Regions from separate parts of the Homo sapiens genome. Here regions 1, 2 and 3 are each linked to region 4. The links come from fine-mapping of genetic effects on gene expression. A gene starts in region 4. Each other region holds a variant in brackets. All regions are shown on one strand. Distances are between the middles of the regions. Region 1 has its middle 160 kb from the start of NCK2. Region 2 overlaps LOC105373531 (a long non-coding RNA gene). Region 3 overlaps NCK2 (NCK adaptor protein 2). Region 4 holds the start of NCK2 (NCK adaptor protein 2).

What was found. PIP is the estimated chance that this variant, and not a neighbour inherited with it, causes the effect.
Region 1: its variant is the best candidate, but not a certain one, in a credible set for the expression of NCK2 in whole blood (INTERVAL, PIP 0.67).
Region 2: its variant is the best candidate, but not a certain one, in a credible set for the expression of NCK2 in whole blood (TOPMed, PIP 0.54).
Region 3: its variant is the best candidate, but not a certain one, in a credible set for the expression of NCK2 in whole blood (TOPMed, PIP 0.70).

Annotation. Positions count from the first base shown.
Region 1 is chr2:105,901,308-105,907,590 of GRCh38, forward strand. No RefSeq gene overlaps it. Among named protein-coding and RNA genes, the nearest start is that of NCK2, 160 kb to the left of the region's middle. The variant A/G (reference allele first, on the strand shown) is at 3,326.
Region 2 is chr2:105,966,182-105,974,292 of GRCh38, forward strand. LOC105373531 (a long non-coding RNA gene) reads left to right here. Exons shown (of 3, transcript XR_923144.3): 3 at 3,511-5,010. Among named protein-coding and RNA genes, the nearest start is that of ECRG4, 95 kb to the right of the region's middle. The variant C/T (reference allele first, on the strand shown) is at 3,435.
Region 3 is chr2:105,790,077-105,798,187 of GRCh38, forward strand. The region is part of intron 1 of NCK2 (NCK adaptor protein 2); the gene reads left to right. Among named protein-coding and RNA genes, the nearest start is that of NCK2, 49 kb to the left of the region's middle. RefSeq lists enhancers at 238-287, 368-417. The variant G/A (reference allele first, on the strand shown) is at 4,254.
Region 4 is chr2:105,739,650-105,747,496 of GRCh38, forward strand. It overlaps NCK2 (NCK adaptor protein 2), which reads left to right and starts at 5,263. Exons shown (of 5, transcript NM_003581.5): 1 at 5,263-5,489. RefSeq lists silencers at 4,914-5,233, 5,424-5,483, 5,594-5,983 and enhancers at 6,354-6,423, 6,524-6,573.

The sequences.
Region 1 (6,283 bases), 160 kb after region 4:
CAAACTCCCTCAGCATTTGCTTATCTGAAAAGGATCTTATTTCCCCTTCTCTTATGAAGCTTAATTTGGCTGGATATGAAATTCTTGGTTGAAGATTATGTGTCTTGAGGAACGTTGAATATAGGCCCCCAATCTCTTCTAGCTTGTAGAGTTTCTACTGAGAGGTCTGCTGTTAGCCTGATGGGATTCCCTTTGTAGGTGACTTTCCCTCTCCCTCTAGCTGACTTTAGCATTCTTTCTTGCATTTCAACCTTGGAAAATCTGATGATTACGTGTTGTGGGATTGATCTTATTTTGAAGTATCTTACTGGGGTTCTCTGCATTTCCTGAATTTGAATGTTGGCCTCTCTAGCTAGTTGAAGAAGATTCACTCCTGTGGCAGTGTTGGATGCATGCAGACATGCTTACTGACAGGGCAGGGAAGGCAAAACCTGCTGGCACACACACTCTGGCAAAGCAATGTTGGGGGTGGCTATGGGCCTTGGGGAAGCTGCTGTTGGGGGAGGAAGCAAGCAGGTTGCTGCATGGCCGTGGGGGACACCTCACTGGAATTCTCCATTAGTCAGCCATGGTGCACCAGTGCAGGATGTGGGCCCCCAAGGTAGCTGAGGCTTTCCTGCAAGTGGACTCAGCCAGGCTGGGGCCTCAGGAGAGGCCAGCAGACCAAGGGCACTGAGGTCCAGACTGGCCCTGTCTGATGGGCAAGACAGCTCTGCAGAGTTCAGGTCTGACAGTTCGCAGAGGGCTAAAGTCTCCTATGAGAACAAGTCGAGCCTAGGAGGCTGGGCATCCCTGACCATGCTCCACTGCAGATGCTCCCACACCAAACCCTCTGGGCTCTGCATCAGTTGGCATGCCCCACTACCACTTCTCTAAGCAGCTCTCCCTGCAAACTCGAGTGTCCACAGTGGTCGAAGGGTCTCCTGCCAGGATTCCAGGTGCCCGTGGTGAGAGCAGGTTGCTCCTTGTCAGTTCAATTCACCCATTACCCCAGAGTCACTGGGGGCCAGGAGTGAGTCCTGGTGTGCAGTAGCCCTTCCATTCAGGGTTCCCAACTTCCTCCCCATTCAGCTCAGCTTCTGTATCTTCCCTCCATGTACTCTCACAGCCTTCCCTCTGAAGATCTGTTAGGACTGTGCCAGTGGTCTTGGTCCCTCAGTGGCAGCTGTTCCACCTGGCTGCATCTAGTTGGCCTTCTTGCCCCAAAAAATCTCTATCTGCATTTTTAACATGCTGCTGGAAGATTCCAATGAGGTGGTTTGGACCTGCACTTTGGGTTCTAGTCTAGTCTACTTGAAACCTCTAGGGAAACACGTTGCTCTCAATGCATGCCATCTACAGCATGTCCTTCTCCTTGGGCCATATAGAATAGGGGTCCCTAACCCCTGGACCATGGACCACTACTGGTCCATGGCCTGTTAGGACCCAGGCTTCACAGCAGGAAGTGAGCAGCAGGCAAGCGAGTGAGCATTACTCCCTGAGCTCCGCCTCCTGTCAGATCCGTGGCAGCATTAGATTCTCATAGGAGTGCAAACCCTATTGTGAACTGTGCATGCAAGGGACCTAGGTTGTGCACTCGTTATGAGAATGTAACTAATGCCTGATGATCTGAGATGGAACAGTTTCATCCCAAAACCGTCACACACACACACACACACACACACACACACACAGGTTTGTGGAAAAGTTGTCTTCCACAAAGCCAATCCAGGTTGGGGACTACTGATATAGAAAGAAATGTCTGATCTTTAAGGCCCAGAGTGATTATTTTTCTCTTTTGTTAACTGTCTTACTTGCCTTAACCTCCATCAGGTTTCCCACAGCACAGCTACTAGCCATACAAACTCACTGGAAAGACTCGTGCTGTTCTATCTTTGGCAGATCCTGCTACCTGACACTAAATGACTATTGAAGATAGACAAGCCTGACAGCTGGTGTGAAAGCTCGCCTTTGACAGCTTTCAAAAAATCCCTGAGCTCCTCTCCAGTGGCCAGCATTTGGTCAGGAACCAGGGCACCAGGGCCTTGTCCTCAAGCATCTGCTGGTTGGTGGGGGCATGTGGCCTTCCAAGATTAGGTCATGGCCCAAGGAAGCCCCTAGTCCAGAAAGTCAGTGGACTTGTGTAAAGCAAAGGCCTGTGCTCATGGTGGTGGAGTGCGCCTCCATCGGTGCACACCCTGCATCTGAGCCTGGGTGCTCCTCACCAGCGGCTTGACCTCCAGCCAGTGCTGAGAACTCTGTACCTCCAAAACACTGGTGCAGAGCTGCATTTTTTAATACAGCCATTTGAGGGGGATATTAGAGTTGTTAGGCGTTGTTGTACATTTAGACAATGTAAACTGCGTAATGTGAAATACTTAGCACATTTGTATAGCTGGTTAAATGGGCTTAATGAAAAGGAAAAAAATAGGTTAATGTGCTAAATTATTATCTAAATGAAGCTAGTAGTGACTTATACAAGATTTCAGACTACATCTACATGTAGTACCATAGAGACACTGTGTTCAAATGATTTTAACCTAGAACTCCATCCAGTCCCACAGGGAATGGGATGTCAGTAATATTCATTTCCACAAGTGCCAGGGAGGTCCTGTCCTGTGCAGTGAAGAGCAGAGAATAAAAAGATGAGGGAGGCTTGACATTGAGGTAATGAAACTAAAATACTTGCCCAATCAGAATGCAAATATCCGGCCAGGCACGGTGGCTCACGCCTGTAATCCCAGCACTTTGGGAGGCCAAGGTAGGTGGATCACTTGAGGCCAGGAGTTCGAGACCAGCCTGGCCAACATGGCAAAACCCCACCTCTACTAAAAATACAAAAATCAGTGGGGCGTGGTGGCGCACACCTGTAATCCCAGCTACTCAGGAGGCTGAGGCTGGAGAATCGCTTGAACCTGGGAGGTGGAGGTTGCAGTGAGCTGAGATCACATCACTGCACTCCAGCTTGGGCGAAAGAGCAAGACTCCATCTCAAAAAATAAAAAAATAAAAACTGCAGACGTCCAAATAGCATTCATATCCCGTTAGTTCTATGACAGTGGTGGCTTGAGGTGTTGGAGAATAACAGGTGCTGTCTTTGTTAAAGGTGCATTTGGAATTTGTCTTTGGGAACTGCCCACCCATATACTGTGGGGTAGCCTTGGATTATCTGTGGTGGAAAATCTTTCAGGTTGTGCTTTTTTTGAGGTAGGGAAAGTGATACTGGTTACAAATCCATTTAGAAATAAATCATTTGGAGGAATCTTAATTTTCTTCACTTTTTTATACATCTTTTTTATTATCTGGATGAAAAATATAGAGAAAAAAGTTGAATATTTTTAAATTGC[A/G]TGGAAACCAAATTTAAGTTGAGTAAAAGTAGATATTCATATTGGTTATACTGGTGGTAGGAAAATAGGAGAAAGATTTCTTCTCTGGAATTTGTTTGGTTTCCCGGTGGTATTAGAAAATAATTTTCTGGCAGGGTATAGTGGCTCACACCTGTAATCCCAGCAATTTGCAGAATCTCTTGAACCCAGAAGGTGGAGGTCACAGTGAGCCCAGATTGCACCATTGCACTCCAGCCTGGGCAACAAGAGAGAAACTCCATCTCAAAAAAAAAAAAGAAAATAATTTTCTCTTTAGTCAATATTTTCACCAAAAGTGCTTGTTAACATGATTTGCAAATTTCAGAATGTAATGAAGTCAATGAACAGATTGGTGTTGCAAAATACTGAATTCCTAATCTAGGTAATCTAGAAAAAATGTTTTGGTTCCCTTCTTAGTGAAGTCTACCATGACTATCCCATTAATAATGAAACTTGCCCTCTTCTCTTTCGTCTTTCCCCTGTAGTACTTATCAACTTCTAACATGAATAATTTACTTACTAGGGTTATTATTCTCTCTGTCAACACACACACAGCTAGCATGAAGTTCCATACAGGCAGCGATATTTGTTTTGTTAACTGATGTAGCCTAAATAGACCAGTGCTTGGCATCTAGCAGGTGCTCAATAAATTAGTTTAAAAGCACTGAATGAATCAACCTGAGAAAAAGAGAACAGTGTACTCTGAGTCCTTTAATATCTGAAAATGCCTTTATATTGCCCTTGAAAACAAACGCTTGCTTAGCTGGACATGGTTCATGCATCACATTCTTTTCTTGCAAAATTCTACATAGTATTCTATCATCTTTTGGGATTTAGTCAAGCCAAGTCAGATGCCATGACTATCCTTGTGACTTGGGTCAAAGGCTCACTTGTGTCACTGATTCCTGCCTTTCTCATTTAGCGGCTGCCCCACACATCTGCCTCCAACTCCAGCACCACCTTTTTCCTTCATAAGGTCCTTACCCACCCGCTTGGTCCCCAGTGCATAAAATTTCCTATTCTCAACCTCCAGGCAATTGGTCTGTTTTCTTACTGCTTTCTGCCAGACTAAATAGTCATTTTTAATGGCACAGCCATCCTATAATTTCTTTCTTCTGAAGTCTTTCCTTTCTGAACCTCTGCTGTACTCTCATCACTTCACTGCCATCAAGGAAGGCTCACTGGTTCCCTCCTGTCCCATGGGGATAGAGGATGAGATCCAAACTAGCAGACAACCCAAGCCGCAGACTGCTAATGTGCTTCAACTTCCCTTCCAACCTCAGTTTCTCACATCTCCTAATTAGAAACTGTGTTTTCGAAATTCCACAAAGAGGCTTGGCACAGGCATTCACCTTTCCCTGTCGGGTTCATGCTCTTCCCCAGGCACTTTTGTGATATGGGGGACTTGCTCTGCCTTCAAGCCCTGATGTCCCAGCTCCTCCTTTCTCATGCTGCTCCTTCTCCTGGGAGACCAGCAGTATTTATATGGCACCAGGGCTACACTTGATTGTCGCTGGCCAGCTTTCCTTGTATCTCTCTGTGTCTTTTCTCCTCCATCAGACTATCAACAATTCGACTTGATATGATATTGCCATTTTTTATCAAAATGATTGAATATTCTCAATTTCATGGTTCACAAAAAACTTAAACTTTTCCCAAAGTTATTAATATGTACTCTCTGTACATGGTAGGTGCTTAACAGACATTTGTTGACTGATGAACAACAGGAAAAGAGAACCTATAAAATAAGGTAGCAGGCTTCTCTCTAGCTTAATTGGAGGTAAGCCAAACCCACTTTAAGTCACTAGAAAGGTCTTACCCACCCCTTAATTAAGCCAACGTTTAATGAAGCCAACTTAAGCATTAGCTAAAAAGTATATTCTAGGTTTCAGTGGTACTTTCATTTACCTTGAGTTTGCACATGCGAGCCTTGGAGAGGACAGACCACTGGGCCTCCTGTGTCTCCACCATTGCTGAAGACCATATGGCATCTGAGAATGAGCTCCACTGAGTTGGATCTTCAAGCCCAGGATGTCATTAGCTAGTGCTGTTATTTCTTATCTGTCTAAATCTACCACAGAACTTTTGAAAAATCCTTTAAGTTGGGTACCAGATGTGGTCCGTAATACTTTTTAAGATTGTAGGAAAATATGCATACCATAAAGTTTGCCATCATAACTACTTTTAACTGTACACAGCTCAGTGGTGGTAAATACATCCACACTGTTGTACAACCATCATCACCATCCATCTCCAGAACTTCTTCATTTTCACAAACAGAAACTCTGTCCCCATTAAACAACAACAACTCATCCCCAGCCCTGCAGCCCCCCAGCCCCTGGCAACTATCATTCTACTTTTTCTACGAATTTGACTATTCTAGGTACCTCATAGAAGTGGAATCATACAGTGTTTAACTTTTCTGCAACAGGCTTGCTTCACTTAGCATAATGTTCTCAAAGGTCATCCATATTGTAGCATGTGTCAGAATTTCCTTCCTATTTCAGGTTGAATAATATTCCATTCTACGGATAGAGCACATTTTGTTTATTCATCTTTCAGTGGACATTTGTGTGGCTTCCACCTTTCCAGCTACTGCCAATAATGCTGCTGTGAACGTGGGTGTGCAAATATCTGTTTGAGTTCCTGCTTTCAGTTCTTTGAGGTATGCAGCCGTAAGTGGAATTGCTGGATCATATGATAATGTTATTTTTAAATTTTTAAGGAGCTGCCAAACTGTTTTCCATAGCAGCTGTACCATTTTACTTCCTACTAACAGTGGATAAGCGTTCCAATTTCTCCACATCCTTGTCAACACTTATTTTCTGTTGTTGTTTTTTTTTTTCAGGGTAGCCATTCTAATGGGTATCACAATTGTGACACTTTTATAAAGTGCAGAGGAAGTGTCATTCCATTAGAACTTAATCTCACGTCTGTAAC
Region 2 (8,111 bases), 230 kb after region 4:
CATGACAACCAAAGAGCCTTCTTCAGAAATCAGCTCAAATGGCACTACCTATGAGACCCTGGCTTCAGCAAGCCACAGGGCCATGACATGCCCCCTGCCCTGTGCCCCCTGCCCTATGCTCCCATATATCTGACCTGCTGCTGATGTTCTGTAATTTTTCTACGTGCTGGGCTTTCTCCCCATAGACCCTGAAGCCTTGATGTGTTTCTTCCTTGTTAGACACCTCCTGCAGTCTCCCACGCATTTAGAAATAGGTTCTCAACAGGTGTTTGTTGATGCAGGGAAGGAAGAAAGGAAAGAAGGAGGGAAAGAAGGAAGCAGGGAGAGAGGGAAAGTGGAGAGGAGGGAAGGGATTCCATGGGTGTGAAGGCAGTTAAAGCAGCTGTGCCCCATCTTTCAGAACATCTGCAGCTCTCTTGTGGCCATCACTAACATTCATCTCCTCCTCCCTCTGAGCCTGGCATCAACATATCAACATGGTGTAATAAGCAGCCTTCTGGTGTTGCCTTGGAGGCTTCCACTTCGGTTCTTATTCACCCTATTCTCAGACAAGCTATAGCTAATGCCAACCAGAGAGCAACTGGCCCCTTGTGGTTTCACCACTGGGCCTGCTCTTGGGCAGAGAGAAGGACCAAGCAAGTTACACCCTCAAGAGAGCATACTGGTTTTGCCCATTTGGGCGATGAGGTTCATTCCTGAGGGATTGCTTAGCGTGAGATGTGGAGATAGGGCTTGGGCCCAGTTCTAGCTTTGGCCATTTCCATGACCTTGAACCAGGTGCTACAGTAACAAGACTGCTTCTGCAACTAGAAATTACATGGGTCTACAAGGTCCTTCTGTTTTTCCAGCTCTGAGATGGAGGATTCATTGGCAGCAGGTACAGGTCAGAATCCCAAAGGTGGGAGTCAAGGATGTTTGATTTCACCAGAATTCCAGGGCCTGGGGCAGGCAGGGCCAAGGTCAGGCCGACCTTGGCTGGACATGGTCCATTAGAACTAAAGGAACCAGACCTCTCCAGGCTATTTTGGATCACCAGGACCAGTCCAGCCAAGTAGGCCTTCTGTCCTAGATGGTTGAAAATGGTTATCTACCTTGACTTTGCAATAGGATGGCCTGGGGGAGCTTAAGAAAATGCTGAAGGCTGGGTTCACCCCATAAACTCCTTCTCTGCAGAGTTGACTTACCCACTAGGCACGGTGCCTAGAACACACAAAAGGTTTACATTTCCCTTGAAATCAAATGAAGAAAACAGACTTTTACGTCAAAGAAGAGGTTTTAATATGCAAAATTAACATATTTTTCTTTATACCAAAGCAGTCATAAAATGTCTCAATATATTTTTACAGATGAAGGAGCCCTGGAAACTCATACTGTAGCCCTGGCCAGGGGTGCCCCACTGTGGCATCGGGAGTTTTGAAAGCTTCCCAGGTTGTTCTAATATGTAGCCAAGGTTGCAAACCACTGGTTTTAAGGGTGTCCAAGTGACTTCCTATGCTTAAATAGGTCTACCTGGCCTCCCCTGAGTCTTGCTAGAAATTTCAATTTTAGAGAAATTATAATTAATTGAAAGTAAAAAGTTTTAAATTAAATTGGAACCTGGTTTCTAAAGTCCTCATTCAAATACTTATCAAATGTTGCAGTTACCAGAGACTGAGTAGGCTTTGAAAAAGTGCATTTAATGTGTGAATAGAGGCAGGAGAGATTACTGGTGGTAGTACAGGCAGTTGGCATCCCCAGGCAGCTGGGGGTGTCTGCTCAGGCTAAGAAGGGGGGCTGCTGATGGAGAGGAACCCAAGTGGCCACCTGGACAGCCAGTGGGCCCTCCTATGTCCATGGGCTCCAGGGACTTCCAAAGCTTTCCTTGTTAGATCTGAAGCAGCCTCAAGGCAAGCAGGGTGATGGATTGATCATTATTACCCCACTTTCAAGGTCAAGTTCGGGCCACACATCACAACAGGCCGACTGCCCACCAGCCAGGCAGTGTCCTGCAGCACGGGTGACTTTGCTAACTTCAGACCCTGTATTTCAGTTAAAGCAGAAGATACTGTTAGACTGTGTTTGGGGAGAAAATGAAAACATTCTCTCACTCTTCACCAGCTTTTGAAGACCAGCATTGAAAATTGCCATGATTTTCATAATGGTACACTGATCCCAGGGCAGCCATGTCTGAAATGTTCAGGTAGAAGAAGCAACAAGTGATTTTGTGTGTGTGTGTGTGTGTGTGTGTGTGTGTGTGTGTGTGTGTGTGTGTGTAACAACATGCTGTTTAATGAGCCCCTGGGTGCAGGTGGGCTGAGGCCTAAAATGACATCAGCCCCAAGGAGGACGGGACAGGGGTTTTATAGTCCTCTGTAAACAGGAAGTGTCCCAGTCTGATGTGATTGCTACGTAGTACCCGGATGGCCTCCTTCTCAATCTTCAGGGGTACGTGTCTTCCAGCCAGGGTAGGTATCTTCTGGCTGGCTCTCTTCCTGATTCTGCTATCTTGCTGACACACGCTGCTGACTCACGTGGACTTGTGCCTTTGGACTGGGCCTGAGAAGGGAGGAGATACTCATCCCTTCAAACTTTCAGGCCCCAGAGAGAATCTTTCATTCCTATTTGGTTATAGAAAAAAGGGAAAAGGGGCAACTTTCTCAATAACTACTGCAGGTGTGACATAGGGGGTGGCGTGGGCACCTTGGAAAAAGAAAACCTTAATTTTTTGGGTATTCTTGAGAGACGGGTTGGTATCCACTGTGTCACTGTAGCAGAAGCAACGTCTGAATTGTCTGGTGGTTAACTGTAGTTTCAACAAGTTTTAATGGCTTTTATTATCAATGTTTTAATGGCTATTATCAATGTTTTAATGGCTATTATCAATGTTTTAATGGCTATTATTTAATTATTATCAATGTTTTAATTATCAATGGGATAACACAGGAGAAACAGGAGGAGCCCAATGATGAAGATTACTGTCCCTACCCATGTTTTAAATCCTCCTAAATTAGAGAACCACCCTCCCAGAAGGTTTGCCAGGTCCCATCCCTTCCAGGTTTGAGTTGGTACTTGGGCTACTTTTCTGATGTTTGAAGCAATTTCTAGAACTGCTTTTTCCATTATCATCTATGTTAAAACAGCAATTAGAGACATTAAACTTACCACAGACCCCACCTTCTTCTGCTAATAAGTAGTCTAGTGCTAGTCTGTTTTGATAAATTGTCAGGTGCATTTGGTTTTGTTGTTGCGTGAGCATTTCCAGGGCTGAGGTGGTTTGGTTAGTGATTATCTCTAGAACCACCTGTAGTCTAATTATTCTATTTAGCATAAATATGAGAGTATGATAACCCCATGAACCATCCTCTGCCCAAGTGACAGAACTGTAATATTTGAATATCCGCTGCGGAAGCCATTCGTCCTCTTGCCATCTTTGGCTTCCTCCTACCTTTAAGGAT[C/T]GTTTTTCTCTGTTTAAGGTATCATACACAGGGACTCCCAGTATGAGCAACAAGTGATTTTTGGCCTTCCCTTTAGGAACAGGATCTCCGGCAGGGTCCACAGGGCTCCACCCTGGCTGCAGGACAACAGCTCCATCTTTTGGACAGCGATGGGATTTGCTTAGGGGCCCAGAGAGTATAGACACTGCCCTCTGTCTCCTCACTTCCACTGCCCCTACCCACTGCCCAAGAAATGAAAAAGAAAGAGAAGAAAAAGGGAGACAGGCAGCTCTCCAGCGTGGAGATCATCAGTCTTGCTTCTCCTTCCCTGCAAGACTATATGACTTGCATTTGCCATTGTGGAAAATTTTACAACATAGTGGAGAGAAAATAAATACTTCAACTTTTTTTTTTTTAATTTAAAGGTGAGCATAACACTAAGAGGTTAGTGTGAAGTGTGATGCCATTCCCAAAGACCTGAGGGCCTCGTGAAAAAAAAAAAAACTACGTACATTTGAGTAAACCTCTGTCATGAGAGCAGAATAATCACAGAATATTGAAAGGAACTAAATATGGTATTTCAGCCAGTCAAGAAGTTACCTCCTTGATCTCTAAAATAGCCATCTCCATTTCATTCTGAACACAATTTTTATCATTAAAAATTTCTGAAGCTGTAGTTCCATTATATGTATCTATTTCTTTAGAAAGTATATCAATGAACTATGGCACACATGTCTTGTGTACACTGTAAAGCCTACAAAAACAGAAATGAGAATGTGACATAGAAAGAAATACAATTCTTCTTTCCCACCACGCCCCAGAGGAGAGTCTGGCACCTCCCGCAGAGTGTGCCTTTCACGTGGAAACCACAGGGCAATACTGTGTGAGTCCAGCCAGCCCATGGAGGATGGAGTGGCAGGCCCTCTTGCATCTTCACTAGAAATGTGGGACATATGGATGCACATTTAGCAAGAAGATGTTGCTGGAAGAAAGGCAGGCCACTCTAGTTTTGCCAGTGCCAGGTCTCTGAGATTCGGGGGCTCACCAAATACCATGCCAGCCCTCCATTTGCCAGCCTGGTACAGCTGGGCCAGGTCGCTGCGTCCCCCATGGAAGGCGGGGGAAGCACTGGTGACCAAGCGGGAGCCTCAGGACCCAGAGTGCACAGAAGGGGCCTCTGCCCTGCATTAGGCTGGAAGTGAATGACAAATAAACATTCGTTGTACTAACCCACAGAGACATGGGGAATTAATTGATAATTGGAGCAGGATCACACCTATTCTGACAAATACACGCAGCAAGTCTAGCTGATGAGAACTGGAGGCCAAGCTTTGGAAGATCAGTTATGTCCACTTGCAGCACGTAGAGGTGCTAGGGACACAAAGGAAGTGTCCCTAACCAGAAAGAACCAGGAAGACACAAACTATCTGCTAGTACAGTGCACCACCAGTCTGGTTATTCATAGGTTGGTGTGTCTGCACGTAAAAACAGTATCTTTCCTGAATATGAATGTGTTGGTGTTGTTCTGTTCAAAGCATTTCCATGTTTATTGTTTCATTTGGCTAGCAAGTATATATATTCATTCACATGCAAAAATCCATGCAGACTTGGGAACAAATTGTATGCCACCTCTAATGAAGACTTCATTAAGGTTGTGACAAGTATGTTGGTGACTCCGCTCTTTCACTGCCTCCAGCTCCCTTCATGAGGACCACCTTGGGAACCCCTGAAATCCTGCTGATGCTGAAAGCTGGAAAGTGACCCTCAATATCAGTCACATGGAAATCCCTGTGCAGTTATGTTGGATCGATCCTGCCAAATAAACATTCTGGACTTCTGAATTGAAGGTTCCCCTCTTCTAGTTGTCAGCAACACCACCATAATAACAGCAGATACAGTTACATGCCAGGTACTACATGAGTGTGCTCTCTAACTTGCAAGAACCCTCTGAGGTAGATGGTATTATCTTTATTTTATAGATGGGAAAACCAAGACTCAAAAACAAGAAGTAGTGACATAAAAGGTGAGGTTCACTCATATCCAGGGTGATGGGATATGAGGGTGGCGGGAATGTAGTTGGAAGTCCCATTACAACCCCTGAGCCCTAGGTGGCCACACCACCCCCTTTCTCCTCTGTCCCCAGCAAGAGCCTTTCTCTACGTAAGTTTCTGGAGAGATGGCCACCTCTTCTCGGCATTCAGTGTCAGGATGCCAGAGCCCCCACCATGCAGAAGCCCACTGAGCTGGGGACTTGAATGAGCTGGAGCAACAGGAGCTTCCCTAGAGAGCGAGGTAGGCCCTCTGCAGCCCATGTTACCTCCACCTTCAGCTGCTGACTCAATGTGCACAGACAGCAGAGGAAACTAATGCACCTGTCCTTTTTTTTCACTTGCTAGTGTCCTGTACAAAAATGATAACACCTACTTTTGAAAGCTTTCTAAGGCAAATGCTGAGAAGATCAATGCAAAACGTTACCAGGAGGAAGTCTCCCTCACTAAGGTGTCTGAGGGATACATTAGTTCCAAAAGAGTCTCCAAGTATCTCTTTAGAAGTTTACATTGCCCTAGTGGTTATAGTTTTTTAAAACCATTCAAAAATAGCACGAAAGGAAGTAGATGACTTCTAAACAAATGGTGAAAGTGAGTTAATTGAATGTGGTTCCTGTTTGTTTACACTCAGGCTTAAAGGGGAAAGAAAACCAACATTGATTTGTAGGGGGGCCACCATGACAAGATCTGTGCTGTTCATTTTGTGTGCATGAGCTGATGAAACCATGCTGAGTATTGGCTATTATCACCCCCATGCTACAGACAGGGGGAATCGAAGCTGCCTTGCAGGTGGTGGAGCCGGTATTGGAATCCAAAAGCAGGCACTGTGGTTTGCCAAGAAGCAATTCAGCTGCAGCCCCTTTCACAGCAAAATGCCAGGAGGTGTCATCGAAGCCTGAGTTCTGACTGCCCTTGCTGGGTGCATCTCAGACCAAGAGCAAAAGAGACATGTGAGGAATCAAGGTCTTCCTGGCTCCCTTTGCTGCACCTGGGTTCAGAGGAGAGCAGGGTCATGTCACTGTGATATGCAGGAGGCTGATGCACAGGAACAGAGTGGAGGCAACAGGCAGATGGATACCCTATCCCCTCCTGAAGCCCAGGAGGGAGCCCATGGGCAGGCGGGGGAACAGGGCGCCCTGAGGTGTTCTGGGCTCATTCCGAGGACAGGTGCTTTCTTCAGGGGGAAGATAACATGCACAAGTGTTAGATGTGACATTTTCACAACATTCGCATTCTTGCGCAGGGCATGGCATGCCCTGGCTTTGAGAGGAGCAGGAGCCCAGGGCCCCCACATTCTGTGGATGCCTTCTCTCCAGGTCCGATGCCATTGCCTTTTCTATGCCAGAGGGAAGAACTGGACCTAAAAGGAGAAGTCTTTCCATGGCTCGTTGGACAGCAAAACCCAAGCTGACCTGACGTAAGACTATTTCTCATTTTCACTGATCCCACTGGGAGTGAACATGCAGACATTTCCCTGCAGCATATTCATGAGTTTGGTGATGCGTGCTGCCCCAGCCACCCCTCCACCAGGGTGTCATGTAAAATAGCACATGCAGCATGCTACTCTTCCAGAGCTGCAGTGTTCTCGATTCCGAAAATGCTTAAGGCTTTGGGTAAGGGCTTGTGGACCTGGGTGGGAAAGAGGTACCTAAAGTTCCCATTTCACAACCCAGGAATCAACTTCCAGTAGGCTCTTTACTGAGGAAAATCAGGGCACCTGGCTAGAAAGCCAGCTCCGGCTGGCTCCCTCGCAATGGTGCTCCGTCCTCTGGATCCCAGTTTCCAACTTAGAAATGGGGACTTGGGCTTTGAGAAGGGTGGGGAGTGTGCCCAAGGTCTCTGGAGAGATTGTGGCAGAAGCAGCCCTAGAACCCGGGTCCTAGCTGGCAACCACGGCTCCTCCCACTCAAATGGATTCCTTTCCACGTCTGGGGTTTTCTCTCAAGATGCTGACATGCGAATTTGTCCTTCTCTTCATAAAATGCTGTGCTTGTGAGCCTGAAATCAGTCCTCTCCACTCCCTCTCAGGTGTCCACCAGGAGGTTGGCAGATGTCCTATATTTTCAGTTCCCTAGGTTGTCAGGCGGCCTTCATGCTGCACAAATCATCATGCCACAGAGGAACAACCCATGCAGTCACTCTAGAGACCCCTGGGCAGGGTTCTAAAGAAAGTGAGCCCCGATAAAGGAGGATGTGGGAAATTAAACTGGATTGCAAGGCATCCCCCTCAGGGCACGGGGCTGCAAGCAGGCTGCACCTTCTCGGCCCAGTTGTTAGCGGGCAGTGGGCAATTTGGAGGCCCCAGGTTCCTGCTTCCCATTTGCCTGGCCTTAATGGGCACTGTAATTATTAACAAAGATGGTAATTTCAGGATTGCTTGTAATGACAAGAGGAAATCTGAAACAACCTCAGTGACCTTCAAAAGGAGACAGTGAAATGCATCATGAGACACCTATGAAATGGGAAATGAAGCAGCTATAAAAATGAACTGTGACATTAATTGTGCCTATGGCTTGTAGAACAGTCTGTATCAAATGAGTCCCTCAGGTCTGGAAGTGGGCGGGGGTCCTCCAGGCTCCTCAACGCCACTTGCGACCATTCTCCCTCAGTGCTCCCTAAAATCCTCCGTCTTTGAAGTTGGAACTGCTAG
Region 3 (8,111 bases), 51 kb after region 4:
GAATGTTACTTCCTATTTGTAGAACGAGAAGAATTAAAAGTTGATTTGTGAGCTAAAAATACGGGCAGCCGTTTCTTCTTCATCAAAGCCCACAAATAGACCTGAACATTTAGACATAAAAGTAAACCGTTAGAAATAGTGTGCATGTCATTAGGATCTGTTGATTGGATTAAAATGACAGACTCGTTTCTTGGCTTCCTGCAGCTCTCGTCATTGCCCACCATCTATTTTTAGCAGATCTTGCCCTGCTGACTCAGAGTGGGAACAGTTGCTGAGCCCTGGGCTTCTCAATGCCATAGGCTGGCAAGTAGCCTGACTTCTAGGATGGGTAGCACTCTATGCCTGGGCAGCAGGAGAGTCTGTGCCTGTGAGGAGACCCCTCTGCAGGCAGCCTGGGAGCCCGGCCACCCCCGCCTGCCCCATTTCTTGTTACCTCACCCACTGAGAGGAGCCACCTCTGGAGCCCTGGTTTCCTAGGCCCTTTGAGAAGTGTGCCAGGTGTTGCTGCCTGGAGTGTCATCACTTGATGTGACATCTTACTGCATCCCCCGCACCTGTCCTCATCTTAGGTGAAGGCATCAGGCCAGGCCCTTAGTGCCTCCTTCCTCTGTTCTGGGCACCCCTAGGGGAGAAGTGTACATGGGTGGAGCTTGTCTTCAGGAGACTGTACCTGTTTCTTTAAGGCTGCTGTCCAGGTGGGTCTCTCGCTGCCAGCTGATGCACATAGGCAAGACTTGGGTGGAGGGAACGGCCTTTGAGCTGTGCCCGAAGAAGGAAGGGTGTGGCAGGTCAGCCCGAGGCAAGGGAGGAGAGTCCTCATCTGCAGGGCTTGGTGAGGAGCCAGCCAGAGTCCAACCCCTCCCCTTTATATCACAGATGCACACTGCTAGGGGAGTGCTCCTCGTGTTAGAACCTGCAAGAGTTGGAAGGCACTGCTTAGAGGTTGTCCGCTCCCACTCAGGAAACTTTGGGGCTCTGGAAATGCCCATGAGCAACACAGCTGAGAGGGTAGGTACTGTATGTGGGAGCCACTTGGAAGCCCCTGCGGCCCTGGGCTCAGCCACTCTGCACCCTCATTTTCTCATTTGTTAAATGAAGAGGTGACAGCGGAAGATCTCTAATCCTTCCTTCCAGGATTTAAATTCTAGTAATTCTTAAGAGAATGTTGATTCATCTAGAGAAACCTGAGGCAGTGATGTAAATTACAGCCACACTGATAAGAAACTGGTCATTTTTTACCTCTCCCACGTAACCTCTGTGCCTTCACGTTTTTCTCTTCACTCCAGAAGAAGAGTGACCAGGTGTGGTGGAAGGCTCGGTGGCTTTCACGATGGGAGGATATACGGTGTAAAGTGCCTAACAACAATGTAGGGAGTGCACCCTCGCCCCGTTGCCGTGCTTACCGGCCAGAGTGCTGCTGCAGATTACTCTTCGCTCACTGTCTTTGGGATGTCCTTATTTGTTCCGTGTATTACAGTGTAGTTTATTGTATGTTTTTAGAGCACTCTTGTGTTCATTTAAACTTCTCTAGAGCAAAGAGCATTTCGAACTGACTCCATAATAGATCTGATCATAGTGACCTCTTGAAGTGCTTGATACAGGGTTTCGTTTTTCTACTTGACAATTCAGGCAAATCAGTGGTATACATTCTTCGTAGAGCTTGTGAGTTTTGTCTATAATTTGATCCATGTAAAAATGACGCAGCTGCTCGTGGTGGTTGTGTTTTGATAGGCCACTCAATATTTTCATATCTGTTGTATATTTAACACCCGAATAACTTACCAAGATTTTATCGAGTGAACTGATTTTTCTTTTTGGGAGGAGCAGAGGTCAAGCTACCAAAAATGTTTTTTCGATGTTTTGAGTGTGTGTTTTTTAAGCATAATCAGAAACAAAAAGAAGAGCCTTAATGGGTTAGCGGTTGATTCTGAAAAGCAAGCTGTTGATTGTGTTGTGGGCTCTGCACAGAGCCGTGGGAACGCTTCCCCAGTCCTGCCTTGGTGACCGGAGAGATGGATGAGATTTTGGAGACCCCTCCTGCTCAGCCTCACCACTGACCCGCTCCATGCCCTAGGCAGGGAGGTGCTTTGCGCACCTTCATATGTAGAAGATGGTTTGCTGCTTGGGGGTTTCTGATGGCCCTTTCAGCTATCACATTTTATGATGATCTTGACATTCTTTGTAAGATGTGATTTCTTAGTTATCAAGATCATCATATTCAGTGTAGTCCTAAGGTAGAATCAGAATAAATTGCCCAGCTTCAGCAGTTATCAATTAATGGCCAATCCTTTATCTAAGCCCCTATAGACTCTAACAGATTATTTCTGAAGTGAATTCCAGACATCAATTCCTGTCCTGTAAATATTACGGAATTTCAATAACAATAACTACTTAACAAGTATGCAGTCAGTGTTCAAATTTTCCCACCTGTCTCAAAATGTTATTTACAACTGGTTGTTAAAGTCAGAATCCACGTAAGGTCCACACATGCAGCTGAATGATCTATTGATTTGTCCAAACTCGTTTGTTTTTTTTTTTCCACCTTCCCCATGCCAGTTGATTTGTTGGCAAAACCCGGTCTTTTGTCATTTGGGCTTCCCACAGTCTGCAATGTGCTGACTAGGACCCTGAACTTCCTAGAAACTGCACATCAGAACCAGAGCCAGTCTGGTGCGATTTTCTGGCAAGGCTGCCCCTTAGGTGGTGTGTGTGCATCTATCAGGCCGAGGCCCATGTGAGCAACCTGGATGGCCGTGGCCTCCACCTGTAATGCACAGGGGTTGCAAAGTGATGATTTTCTGATTCAGTCACTCCTTCTGCACTTGCTAGCCAGGTGAGGAGAGTACTTGTCAGCTATTACCCCGACGTGCAGTTTAGATGGGAGTCTTTCCCTTTCTCACCAACCGAGTCAGCTTTTCCCTAATGGTGGGATTCTTTCCTGTCCTGTGTCATGAAGCCAACCCATGAAACTGAAGGTGAGCATCAAGCAGTGCAGGCTTTATATAATGGCCGTGGAATTGAGAAGTGGCAGTGTGGCTCGCAAATTGGCTTCTCAGTCCATGAGAGGTGGGAAGCCACAGATGTAGGACATCTTTAATGAAGGGATTGGGCATTAAAAGCCAGGAGAGGAATATTCATGTATTTTCTGGGAATGGGTGGAGAACTTCTGGAAACCAGAGTGCTGCCTGTTTTTTTGTCCCCTTATGGTTTCTTGTCATTGTCATGGTGATTGTCAACTGTCATGGTCCTAGTGGGAGTGTCATTTAGTATGGAAATTAGATGATAATGAAGTTAAAGGTTCTTCAGAGGTCAGGTGAGCTGCCATCTTGGATCCCACTGGTTTCAGCTGGTCTGGTCAGGCAGGGAACTTCTGACCTCGGGCATCCTGTTTCTGAGACAAGTAGAGTTAAGGCAGGGTAGAAATTCACCTAGGTCATGTAGGCATTGCACTGGCTAACAAGTTTATTTGGCAGTTTTCAGAGTAAATAGTTCTGGTTCCCCAGTATCCACCAAAGTGAGCAATGAATTTGTTTATTTCTTTGTTTTGAGTAGCAATTGTGGAACTCTGATTTAAGATACTTTGTGTGTATTTTTACCCACTGCAGTTGACACCCTCATTGCTGCTCAGGCTGCCCCAGCCTTGGCCAGCGAAAGCTGCCTTAGGTGGCCTTCGTGTTCTCTTGCCACGTGCCTGTAGTCCTTAATAATCACACCGGAAAGCAGGGAGCTGTGGGGGTTTCAGGCTCCTTTAGACAGTGCCTACCCCAGCTGGGGTCTGCGTGCCTTCAAAGAACTGTGGGGACCACTACTGTTTATGGGTTGCTTCTGGTTTGGTCATTGTGTCTGAGCCTTTTCAGTGGATAAAAGCTTTTTTTCTTTGGTGTGGTTTGTTTTTAAACATAATCTATTATAAATTCACATTGATACTTATAACTCAAAATTAGGATTCTAAAATATTGTATCTTTCGATTTTTTTTTTTTTTTTTTTTGGAGACGGAATCTTGCTCTGTCGCCCAGGCTGGAGTGCAGTGGCGCCATTTTGGCTCACTGCAACCTCCACCTGCCAGGTTCTAGTGATTCTCCTGCTTCAGCCTCCCAAGTAGCTGGGATTACAGGCGCCTGCCACCACGCTGGCTAATTTTTGTGTTTTTAGAAGAATTTTCTAAAATTTCACCATGTTGGCCAGACTGGTCTCAAACTCCTGACCGCAAGTGATCCGCCCGCCTCAGCCTCCCAAAGTGCTAGGATTACAG[G/A]CATGCGCCACCATGCCTGGCTGAATCCTTTGATTTTATATTTCCTTTATGCTGAAAATCTTTGTCCCTAGGATCGTTTACGTAATGACTTATTTGCTTGCTTGTGTGTTTTATTTATATACAATATATATAAATGTTTAAAATAACCCCACCAATATAATTGCAAACCATATAAGTACTGAAAACAACAGAAAATGTTTTTGTCCTTAGGGTTTATCTCACAGGGGAAATACAGTCCAATTATTGTATTTCAAAGTCTTTCAGGATAATTCCTCTCTGTACTTAAGCCACCAACTCAATTTATAGTTTAGTTTGTTTCATTCTGCTTTTAATTTTTGGACTTTAAAAAAGTTAATAGTTTATTATTTTATTTATTTATTTATTTATTTATTTATTTTTGAGACGGAGTCTTGCTCTGTCACCCAGGCTGGAGTGCAGTGGTGCAGTCTTGGCTCACTGCAACCTCCATCTCCTGGGTTCAAGCGATTCTCCTGCCTCAGCCTCCCGAATAGTTTATTATCTAAACTGTTCGCATGGTTCCGCAGCCAAAGATGGTTATGTCCAGAGAATGATTATTTTGTATGACTACTCTCTCTATCTTCTTTTTTCCCTACTCTTTTCCATCACCATTTTTTAAAGATGTTTTTTTCTTTCCCCTTTTTATTTCTTGCTTTTTAAAAAAAGTTTTATTTTTTAGAGCAGTTTTAGTTTCACAGCAAAACTGAGCAGAAGGTACAGAGTTTTCTCATATATCCAGTTCCCCCACATGAACTAGCAACATCCCCGACAGGGTGCTGCATTTGTTTCTGTGGGTGAAACTGCACTGACAAAAACCAATCACCCAAAGTCCAGGGTTTATATTTGGGTTCACTCTTTGCGTTGTGCATTCCATGGGTTTGGACAAATGTATAATAATAATTATTGCTTTTTAATGTGAGCAAACACATATGTGTATACAGTGATATATTTTTAATTTTTTTTTTCCTCAAATAAGCAATAGCATACTCTATACACTTTTCCCAAGCAAGAGGTCAAAGGTGGTTTTCTAATTATATGGTATATTGTAACTTAATCATGATATTGAGTTAAACTGAATGGGCCTGTTTATTTAGTTATTTTGAAACGGGTAATTATAAAAACTGCTGCATAAATATTTGAGTCATATTCCAAAAGAGTTAGAAAATACATGGATATTCCTGTCTTATTTTTGCTTTAACAAACTTGGTCTATTTAGTTTACATGTATGCTCCGTCAGTGGTTCTCAGCCAGGGTGATTTCATTCCCCAAGGGATATTCAGCAGGCAGTGTCTGCAGGCGTTGTTGATTGTCACCAATTTAGGCAGGGTGTGGATTGTTGTTAAACATCCTACAACGCAGGGGACAGCTCCACGACAAAGAATTACCGAAACGTCTGTATGCCCCTGGTGAGAAACACTGCTCATGTTCAACCAGGTATTTGAGTCATTATTCCTCCCTCTAGACCTCTCCCTCCTCCCTAACTTCCTTCCTTCGCCGCTTCCTCTCATCTTCCACGCACCCTCCCCCCAGTCTTTTTCAGTAAAACTAGGTATTTACATCTAGGACTTTAGGAAAACATGAATCATTTAAAATGAAACACATCAACGATATATTCTTTATTACCAGTCTTGTAAAAAGAGCAAAACAGTTTAGCATTTGAAAGCTCTATTGTAGTTTGCTCTGGTATAAATCATATGTGCAGTCAAACTTTTTTTGGAAAGCTAATTCTGCTTTATGATACAGGTCCCAAGAAGACAGAATTTTATTAGGTGCATGCACATGGAATACCAACTTCAGGGTTGAAAGTGACTGAGGTTGATAGTCTCTGTATTGGCCGCCCTCTGGGCACTGTGGCTTCAGGGTTGAAAGACAATCATTTGCAGGCGTGTGTAAGTATATATGGCTGGTGGGCAGAGTGGTGGCTTTGCTGCTCTTGCAAGGCTGTTTTGTCATTGATGGCACACAGGAGAGTGCTGGAGGTTAGTGTCAGTTTATCTTATCTCTGTACTTCCTGTTGCCTCACTTTAGGATCTTAAGAAATATTCAATTTCCACTAAAAAGAGGAGTGAACAATTCAATGTTTTGCTGTTTTAAGGGTCATGTATGTAAATATGGATGAATGGGGGCATTGGAGCAGGGAGCACATGGGGTATTATTGGCACCGGTTGCAGAGAGGGCCTGGGGACATGAGTGTGTGGCACAGAACGCAGGTGTTCAGATCGGCAGCGTCTGGACTGAGCCTGGGAGCTGGAAGGCTGGAGATGGTGCTTTTCTTCCTTTTGCATTTGGCAAGGAAGAGTATCCCGTAGTTTAGTGTTATTCCAGAAGCTCTCGGCATCATGTTTATTCCCTTTCTTTTTTTTCCCTTGTACTTTCTCATACCTCTATCAGATAAATTAAATGAATTGGAAAAATAACTAAGCATTTCTCTTTGACGCAGGTAAATGCAGTATACATTTGATTCCATGGAAAGGAAATATATATAATTAGAACACTTATAGACATTAGTGGTGACAGTTCACAGGTTAGTCTGCCCTCTCAGGAGTTGTCTTGATAAAATAAATTTTATTAAGCATGTTACTTGTAAGTGTCAGCACTTATCTGTGGTTGGTTCAGTACCCCTAGCTGGGGTGAGTGTTTGCTGTGATGATGGTTACAAGCATAGTCTTGCAGAAATGGATTTAGTCATCACAGTCCCTTTTTTATTTTAACTTTATGTCTCTAAGACATAAAAATTTATTATCCTTTTTAGGCCTTTGACTCACAGTTTGTACCACCATCTTTTCTTTCAGCATCTCCCCCACCCACAAGAAAAAAGTTGACATTGATTTCTAATCCTTTCTGTCTGGCCAAATTCAGGATCTTAGAAAGGACACCCCTATTTCAGCTCCTATACTAGTGTTTTAAGGGGAACCTTTAAAATGGGATTCTGAAGCCTTGGCTGATTTTTCTTTTCTGCACAGGAAATAACCAATTTGTGCTATTTCTGGGTGGTGTGTGTTGAACTCACAGTTCTAGGACCGGAAGAGACTGCCAGCCATGCGGTTCCATATTGTGCAATGCAAGGGCAGAAATGGTATCCAGGTCTTTCTAAGGGGGAAAAAACCAGTATGGCCAAGCAGCAGGCTGCCAGGCTGTGCGGGCTAGCAGAAGGGAGGTTCTTAAATTCTCTGCACCCATGTGAGGGAGGCTGCTCTCTTGACAGCGTCTTAGGGTCAGGATGGCTGGAATGGAGCGTGGAGCCTGGTCTGGTTGGAGTCCCTGTGTGGCCTTTTGGAGATGAGTATGGTAACAGTGAGGCAGGAAGTGGCTGGATTTGCAGCGACTGTGTGGAGCCTCCCTGTTTAGGCTTAGTGAGCTGATGCAAAGTCTTTCGTAACCATGATCAGTTAAAACAAAACACCTGATGTTGTGGCCTCCTGTCAGCTTTTGTCCTCCTGTAGAAACAAGATGCTTCTAGAAAACCAGTTTGTAAATTTGGCACAGAAAAAAAACCCTTTCAGCAATTTGGTGTGGACTCTGCTTGTTAATTTATGGCTTCGCAACTTTTTTTAAGCTACCGGCACTAACAGCAGATCTTTAAGTGTTTAATCGTCCCAAGTCAGGTTTGACTGTGGGCTGACTAGCTATAGTGATCTAATTTGGTTCATTTCCTAGGAGAAGAAAATTATAACCACATTTTTATTAATTTATGGTTTTGATCCATCTATTTTAGACTCAATATTAAATCATCCCCTACTTCCAGAAGATGTGTTTTTGAACATAAGTATCTTTAGGATTTAATATTCTATGAAAGGAGTAGGAGCTAATGTTCGCTTGTTGTAATGTTTGTTTTCTTCT
Region 4 (7,847 bases):
ATAGCAACTTTTCTAGCACAGAGGCACGTGAGGGCAGGAACTGTGGCTTGCTCATTTGTGTACCTCCTGCAGTGCCCTCTCCATGTAGTAAGTTGGCAATAACTATTCATTACATTTAACAAATGTACAAAAACAAAACCGTTCATCCCTCACAAGCCAGTCCTCCCCACTTTTCTGTTTCTGATCTCGGCACCGTTGTCTTTGCAGTTTCCCACATCCAAAGCCTCAGGTTATATTTGTGCCCCATTCTCTTTCTCTTTGGTCCCCCACATCCAAGCAGCTGCCAATTCATTTTGAGCCTCCCCTTCCATTTCTCCTAAAACACTTTCCCATCTACTCATTCCACCCCAGTTGGGGTTATGAACTCTCTTGGAAATGCGAACTTTTGTCTGCTCTTCCTGTCTCCAGCTGTCCTTCCGTGCATGCACCAAATGAGTGTTCCTGGGCTGAGCCCAGATGATGTCCACACTTAACTGCTTTCCTTCTTGGCCTCGCGATCCGCTCTGTGCAGCCTCTGCTCCATTTAGGCAAGTGGGCCATTCTCTGTCCCTACAGGGTCCTCCCACGTCCCCCTGTCTGCCTCAGAGTTCTGAACTCCTGCCGCTGGGAATTTTCTCCCTGTCTATCTCCACCTTTCAAAATCCTACCATTTGCATTATTCAGGGGTTTGGGTTCCAAAAAGAGGAAGTGCCTCTGGGTACCTTAAGCAGAATAGGAGAATTTACTAGAAGAATATCAAGTAGCTCACAGGGGAACTGGAGAGCAGAAGGGGTGAGAATGGAGCTGGCTAATTCCTGTGGGAGGGATGTGCTGGGACTATTTCAGCCATGGCAAATTGAATCTCACCCTCTCTTGTCCTTTTCACCCTCTCCAGTTTCACAGTCTTGAGTGGGAGGGTTCCATTGGCCAATCCCAGGCTGTTCACTCTCACAGGGCTTCTGGGAATGGAGGGACCAAGGTGCCTACTCTGCCTCCCTCCAGGGTTCAGACAGGCTTCTCTAAAACCAGGAAGGGGCTAGAGAGGGGGGCAGCCAAATTAAAGGCAGCTTCCCACCATGTAATCTCTCAAGGTCATTGCCAATGCCACCACCTTTCATAAAGCCTAAAGCTTCTCCTGATTCTCTAGACATATTTTCTTTGGTACTGTTCATATTTAGTTTTATATTATAGTTATTTGTATGCTGGTTTCATCCTTCCTTTTGGGTCTTTCCTCTCCATTTCTCCTAAACTATTTTCCCATCCTTTCACTCCACTCCAGTTTGCGTTATAACCTCTCTGAATAATGCAATCTTATATCTGCTCTTTGCACATCCAGGTGTTCTTTGGTGTCTGCACCAAATGAATGAATCCTGAAGTGGATCTTATAATGCCTTACAAATAGAACTACACCAGATATGCTTAATTGAATTGAGGGTTACAAGAGAAGGTCATGAGAAAGGAGACATGAGTGTTTACCATGTGCTGAACACACAGTTGAGACATGTTTATATTATCTCCTTTAATTCTCACAACGCTTTGCAAGAGCACTATTAATATCTGAGGCTCAGAGAGGTGAAATGACCCCAAGGCACAGGCTCCAAGGTAGGCTTTGAGCCTCTGACGTATGACTTGGACAACACCCTCAACCTTGCTTTGTGTTTTCCGTGAGTCTAAGGAGGGGTTAGAGAAGGCCTTGAATGGAGCTCTGAAAGAGAAGGACGGGGACAGGGAATTCCTAGCTGCCTTCACACCACAGAAGGCTGAAACTAGTGTGACTCAATGTGGCACTGTGGGCAGAGCTGAGTGACTGAAGCAAACAGCTTATACTGGACAGAGGTAAAAAGGAGATTGTATGGCAGGGCTAAGTTGGAGAGGCCTTTGGAAGAGAGATCATAAGATGTAATGCTGATGTGATTTTAGGCAAAAGTTTACTGCACCTCCTTCCACTCCATGTTTTTTATGCTTTCAATACTTTGTGATTGAAGACAGTAAAACAGATGTGGACACATTAATGGAGTAGAATGCAGAAAAACCTATATATTTTTAGATAAAACATAAGCTTCAAAGAAATGTCTCCCCCATGTTAAGCCTTGCAGTGGGTTGGATGTTGGCCCCAAAAGATATGTTCACCTGGAAGCCGAGAACGCGACCTTATTTGGAAAAAAGGTCTTTGCAGATGTTGTAAGATAAGGATGTCGAGATGACATCATGCTGGATTAGAGTGAGCCCTAAATTCAATGATACTTGTCTTTACAAAAAGAGAGAAGGGAAAGGACACAGGGAACCAGGTTGTGTGAAGACAGAGAGGCAGAGGTGGGAGTGACACTGCCACAAGCCAAGGAATGTCTGCAGCCACCAGAAGCTGGAAGAGGCAGGGAAGGATTGTTCTCTACAGACTTTGGAGAGAGGCTGGTGTCTTGATATCAGACTTCTGAACTCCAGAACTTTGAGAAAATAACCTCTGTTTTGTCACCTAGTTTGGGGTCATTTGTTAAGGCAGCCCCAGGAAACGAACACAGGCCTCTAAGGGCTAAATACCCCAGCCTCTCTGGGGGAAAATGCTCAGTCTTCAGTCATCAGATAACTTTTGAGGAGACTGTGGTGGGCAATGGGGAGCCATGAGAAGTTCTTGAGCACAACCAGGGACAAATGGAAACAATTTACAGGAAGGTTAGGATGACATTGATGTCCAGTGTGAGTCTGAGGGATTTAAGAAGGAAGTAATGGGAGACCAGTTGGAAGGCAGTAGTTGTGGGGAATTGAACAAGAGTTTTGGAGTCAGGTACATGCTCTGACCCCAGTTCTTTGATCCACTGTTCAAGTGATTTCATCTGTAAAATGGGTATAATACTATTGTGTGTGGATTAGAGATGATATATGTCAAGAATTCAATCAAGGTACATTATAACTATTGCTAGAATGATGTATAAGTTAGGATGCCAGTGATGGAAATGGAAAGAAAGGTGCAGTGGAAAAGATGTTTAAGAATCACCAGGACTCAGAACCATGGGGGTAGTCTGCAAGGGGTCTTGGTGTCATTCAGCGCTCTCCCAGCTTTTCTTGGGGAGAACTCGGAGAGAGGGAAGGAAAAGCCAAGATAACAATGAGATTTCTCCCAGGAGCTGAGGTGCCTGGTAGACTCTTGGCCAGGCCTGAAACCATGGGAGGAGGAGCTGGTCTGGGGAGCAGATGAGTTTCATTTTGAACATGGTGACCTAGAAGAGATGCTGCGCCATGTTTAGGGGGTGCAGATTAGCTGGGGAGCTCTGCAGATTAGCAGGGGAGCTCTCTAAGGCTACAGGTCTGGGGGTTAATCAATGAAGGTTTAGACAGGGAGTGTACAAAAAACAATCAACTCTCTCTTTAAAAAAAAAAGGTGCGTATCAGAATAAAAACAAAGGGCCACCATCTGCCTTGGGGATATCACTTTTACAGGGTGGGAAGACAACAACCTCTCTAGAGGAGGCAGATGGGCAGGTCAGAAAGGTAAGAGAATCAGAACTGGCTGTGTTTGATGAATGAAAAGATGATGGTGTTTCAGGAAATAGCAGAAATGCCACATATTTCAGAAAACTCCACAGGATAAAGATTGATAAAGGGCCACTGGATTTAGATAGAGAATGACATCGGTGACTTCTAAAGAATCAGAGAAAGAAGAGGCATGCAAGAACCACGATTCAGTGAAAGTTTACAAAGCAAACAAGCTACAAACTGGGTCAATATTGCTATACTTATTTTGAGTAAATTAATCTAAAATTGGGCAGACTGATGACTAGAATTCTTCTTTTCTTATTGTAAAGCTAGATATTAGTAACACAAAACTTGCACAAAAGGATGAACTGAAGTAGCTTCTTTCACAAGGTCAAAACAAGGAAAAATGAGGCTGTTCTGATTCCCTGAGCTTGTACCTGATTCCTGCTCAGTGTACTGTGCTTCCTTCCACTTACTGAGCTATTGAGGGCTACCTACTGCCAGGGTACTTCACATAGGAGGTAAGTAAATATTATCTCCCCATATGACAGATTTTAGAAAGGCTGAGGACCACCTGTGCAACGTTACACAGTTCAGGAAGTCAACAGTCAAACACTCACCTGTCTGACTTCAAAGCTACGCTGACTCTAGTTACCTATCCTTGGGTACTTCCCTTCTGGAAGGAAGCAGGAGATGAGTGAATCAAATAATACAGCCTTGTAACCTTGGGTAAATTATTATTGCCTTAATAGTAAGCAGAGACCAGGAGCCTAAGAAAGAATCTCATTAACATGGATGCAGGCTATCCTGCCAGGAAATCAGAATCATTTGAATATTAGGATTTCCTTTGGGAAACCATATGGGGAGGAGAAAAGACATCCGGATGCATGTGTCTGTGAAAGGGAAACTTGTGTCTTTCCCCTTGCTCTTGGGTTTTCATCTTCCAAGTTTGTTTATAGGCTAGCCACAACTCGAGGCTGGGTGAGCTGAACGGTCCCATCATTAGCGACACTCCTTCTAGGGGCACATTCGGGCAGCTCCTCTTCGGGTTCTGCCCCCACGGGTGTGCAACCAGGATTCCACAGGCTGGGGCTGGCCTGGATGCCTGGGAGGCAACAGAGGTCGAGTTTCTTCTTCTTTTAGGAAGTGCCTCGGACAGGGATGATGGACTAAAAATGTGTCTGGTTGGGAAAGTAAATAGATGCAAAGCAAATAAATAAAAATGCCCACAAGCAATTACAGGGAGGAAGTGACATTTTTATTTAAGTCACTTTTCTGATGGACAACAGGCCTGCTTAGCTGAGTGCCGTGGGAATGCTTCCGGGAGGGGGGCGGCTGCCCAGCAACTAGAGCTTCGTGATAAGAACAACGAACAAACAAAAAAGAGGACGCAAAGCCCACCCGGCAGTCATCCCAGGCTGGAAGTTGCCGTCTGTGTTTTCACTCTCCTCCCCACCCACCTACCCTGCCCCCCACCGCCCGCACGCAATTTCGGGCGTGGGGACCCTTTCCTGCCCCCGGCGCCCGGCCCGTGCTGCGCCTCCAGAGCGGAGCGTCCCGCAGCCCCGCGCTATCCCGGCGCCCGTACCGGGACCCGGGCGCGGAGCCTGGCGACGACGGGGGGCGCCCCAGGTGGGTCTCGGGTCCCCGCCCCGCGCGCCCGGGCCTGGGCCGGCCCCTGGGCGGCGTCACGGCGCGGCCGGGGAGGAGCGCGGGAGGAGGAGGAAGAGCGCGGAGGAGGCGGGCGCTGCGCGCCGGGGGAGGGTCGCCGCCGCCGCCGCCGCCGCCGCCGCCGCTGCCGCGGGGATCGTCAGGCCGGAGCCGCGCGGCCGAGCGGGCGGCGGGCGGAGGGGAGGGCTTGGCGGCCGGGAGGCTCGCGGCGCCCGGGCCGGCAGGGTCCGCCCGGGCCGGCAGCGTCCGCCCGGCGGCGGGAGGAGGGAGCGGCGCAGACAAAGAGCGGCGCCTGGGCGGGCGCAGCGCGGCCACCGCCCCGGGACCCGCGCCGCTGCCCTCCGGCTCCGCGGGCGGCCCACGGCGAGGTAAGCGCGGCTAGGCGGGCGTGGGGCGGGGGCCACAAACTTGGGGCCGTTGGGCGGAGTTGGGAGCGCGGCGGGGCTCGCGGGCCGGGGTGCGCCCGGGAAGGGGCCAGGAGAGCGGGTCCCCTCCGCGCCCCTCCGGTGCTCTCGGCCCTGCCGCGGCCTGGGCGCCCCCGACCGCGGACTGCCGGGCACCTCCCGGCTCTGCACCTTCCTGCCCGCCTTCCCATCCCTAACCCCCACCATCGGGGGCCGGCCCAGGGGCGGGGACGCCAGCCAAGGGCGCGGGCGAGGATCAGGGCAGGGGGCCCGGCTGCGGGGCCCGGGGACTGGAGACCCCCGGGTGCGCAGGCTGCGCCTGGCCTGCAGGCGGGCGGCCGGCACGGAGCTCGGGGCTAGCGTGGGACCGTGCGGTGGCCAGGGTCGCCAGGGCGCGTGTGCCGGGGAAGAATAGCCGCGGATCGCAGGGCCCCGGCGCAGGGACGGGGGAGGCCGCGATCGGCCGGGAGAACTTAACCGTGTTTATTACAACTATTTATGTTCGCGCACAAAGCTGCTGTCACATTGCATAAAGGAGGTCCTCGCTTCGGCGAAGGGAGCTTTTGTGCCCGGCTTCAGGCTCTGCGCCCTGCCCCAGATTTACAGGACTCTAACAGCCACCTGAATGAACCAAAGTTTCTCACAATCGCTCGGCTCTCTCGGTTTTTTTCAGGGCGATTTAATCACCGAGTGCTTTTGGAAAAATTTGATATGTGAGTTTTAAGGCATGGAGGGTAACTGCCTTATGAGCACAGTTAGCTTGGCATTGTGTGGAGGGGTTTAATTTGCAAAACGCTTTAATTTGTAGACAATGGGGATCTCTGTGAAGGTCTGCGGTGGATGCTAGGGGTCATTGGCTGGTGGACCCCAGGCACCTGACTTAAACTAGTATTGTAACAGCTTCAGGGACAAAGCCGAGCGTGCGTGGAGTCGGCCTTGGCCACTTCACACAATTCAGGTTGGCAGATTCCTCTTTATTTGGCTTTGTTTATTTTGCCAACAGGTTTAAGGCTGCTTCTGCCAAGTTTGCATCTGCATAATGGGATGAGCAGGCCCCAGTGTGGGCAGGAGGGGGCCTAAAATATCGCAAGGGCCAGCTCCGTCCCTCGACCCAGAAAGAAACAACCCTGAGAGGCCGGTGGGCGTGGCTTGCTGGGACCTACAGGTAGGGGAGTCCCTTCCTGGCCCAGGCGCAGTCCCCGCTTCTCGGAAGGGATTTTGTGTAGGAATGAAAGTGATTCAGGGTGTTTTTCATGCCTCTGTTTTAGATGTAGTTATCAAGTCTCAAAAGTGACTGAAAATGAAATTAACCTGGGCCGCTTTAACTTACCAAAACGGAACTGTGCGTGTGAACACTCCCTCAATTCACTTTGCAAGCTTCATAGATAAGCAGGTGAATTAGTAACAGGATTCAAGCCTTGCGAGTTTTACGTAAAGAGAATGGCAGTCATCGGACACGTGGAGAAGAAATTGACTTCACCTGGAGATTGGGCTAGACATGGAGGTTTTTTGACGTTTGGAACAGGGGTTTCCTGAGAAGCAAGTGTTAACCTGCTTGTGAAGAAGTGAACACGAGGGAAAATCCTACCTCAGTATATTCTGCCCTGGAGGTTGGTTAGATGTAGTTTTGATTGGAGAAGGTGGCGGAATCTTAGTGGTCTTCTGGCGGCTACTTGAGGCTGAAATGGAGAACTTTAGGCATAGGAAGCTGTGGAGGTGCCTGGCCCACTTCCTGTCCCGGAGGCCTCGCCTGGATTCTGAGCTTCTTTCCTGCTTCATAAACATTCAGGGGGGTTGGTCATGAAACACTGGATGAAATTGGGTCACAAATTGCCATCAGGAAGAGTTGGCTGCTGCATAACCCCCTCTGTCCACTTGTGGAGAAACTGACCCTGTTAACCGTCGGGCTTGCTGAAGGTGCCTTGCAGGTGGCTGTGCTCAGTTTTCATGCTTTGTGTTTTGCTTAGGACACGCTGCATACTTAAATCTTCTTCATCCTTGCTCTGTTTGACCCTGCCATATTCCCAGGCTTTGTCATTTACATTTTCGGTTATTTAGCTTTTCCAACAAACAGCAGATCTTATGTACACAGTACTATATTTGAGAAATGCACTACCATCCATATTAAATACACCGGAAATCTTCCTTGCATGTGCACAGACTGGATAACCTTTTAAAATACCCTAAGACTCCCGGAATGGCGCAGAATGCACTGGAGTCCTTTACTTGATCAGTTGCACTAGCTTAGTTTGCCCTGGATAGACCAGGCTGCGAGGCTCTATGGGACACCCATTTTTCTAACTGCTCAAACTGGCTTGCCGT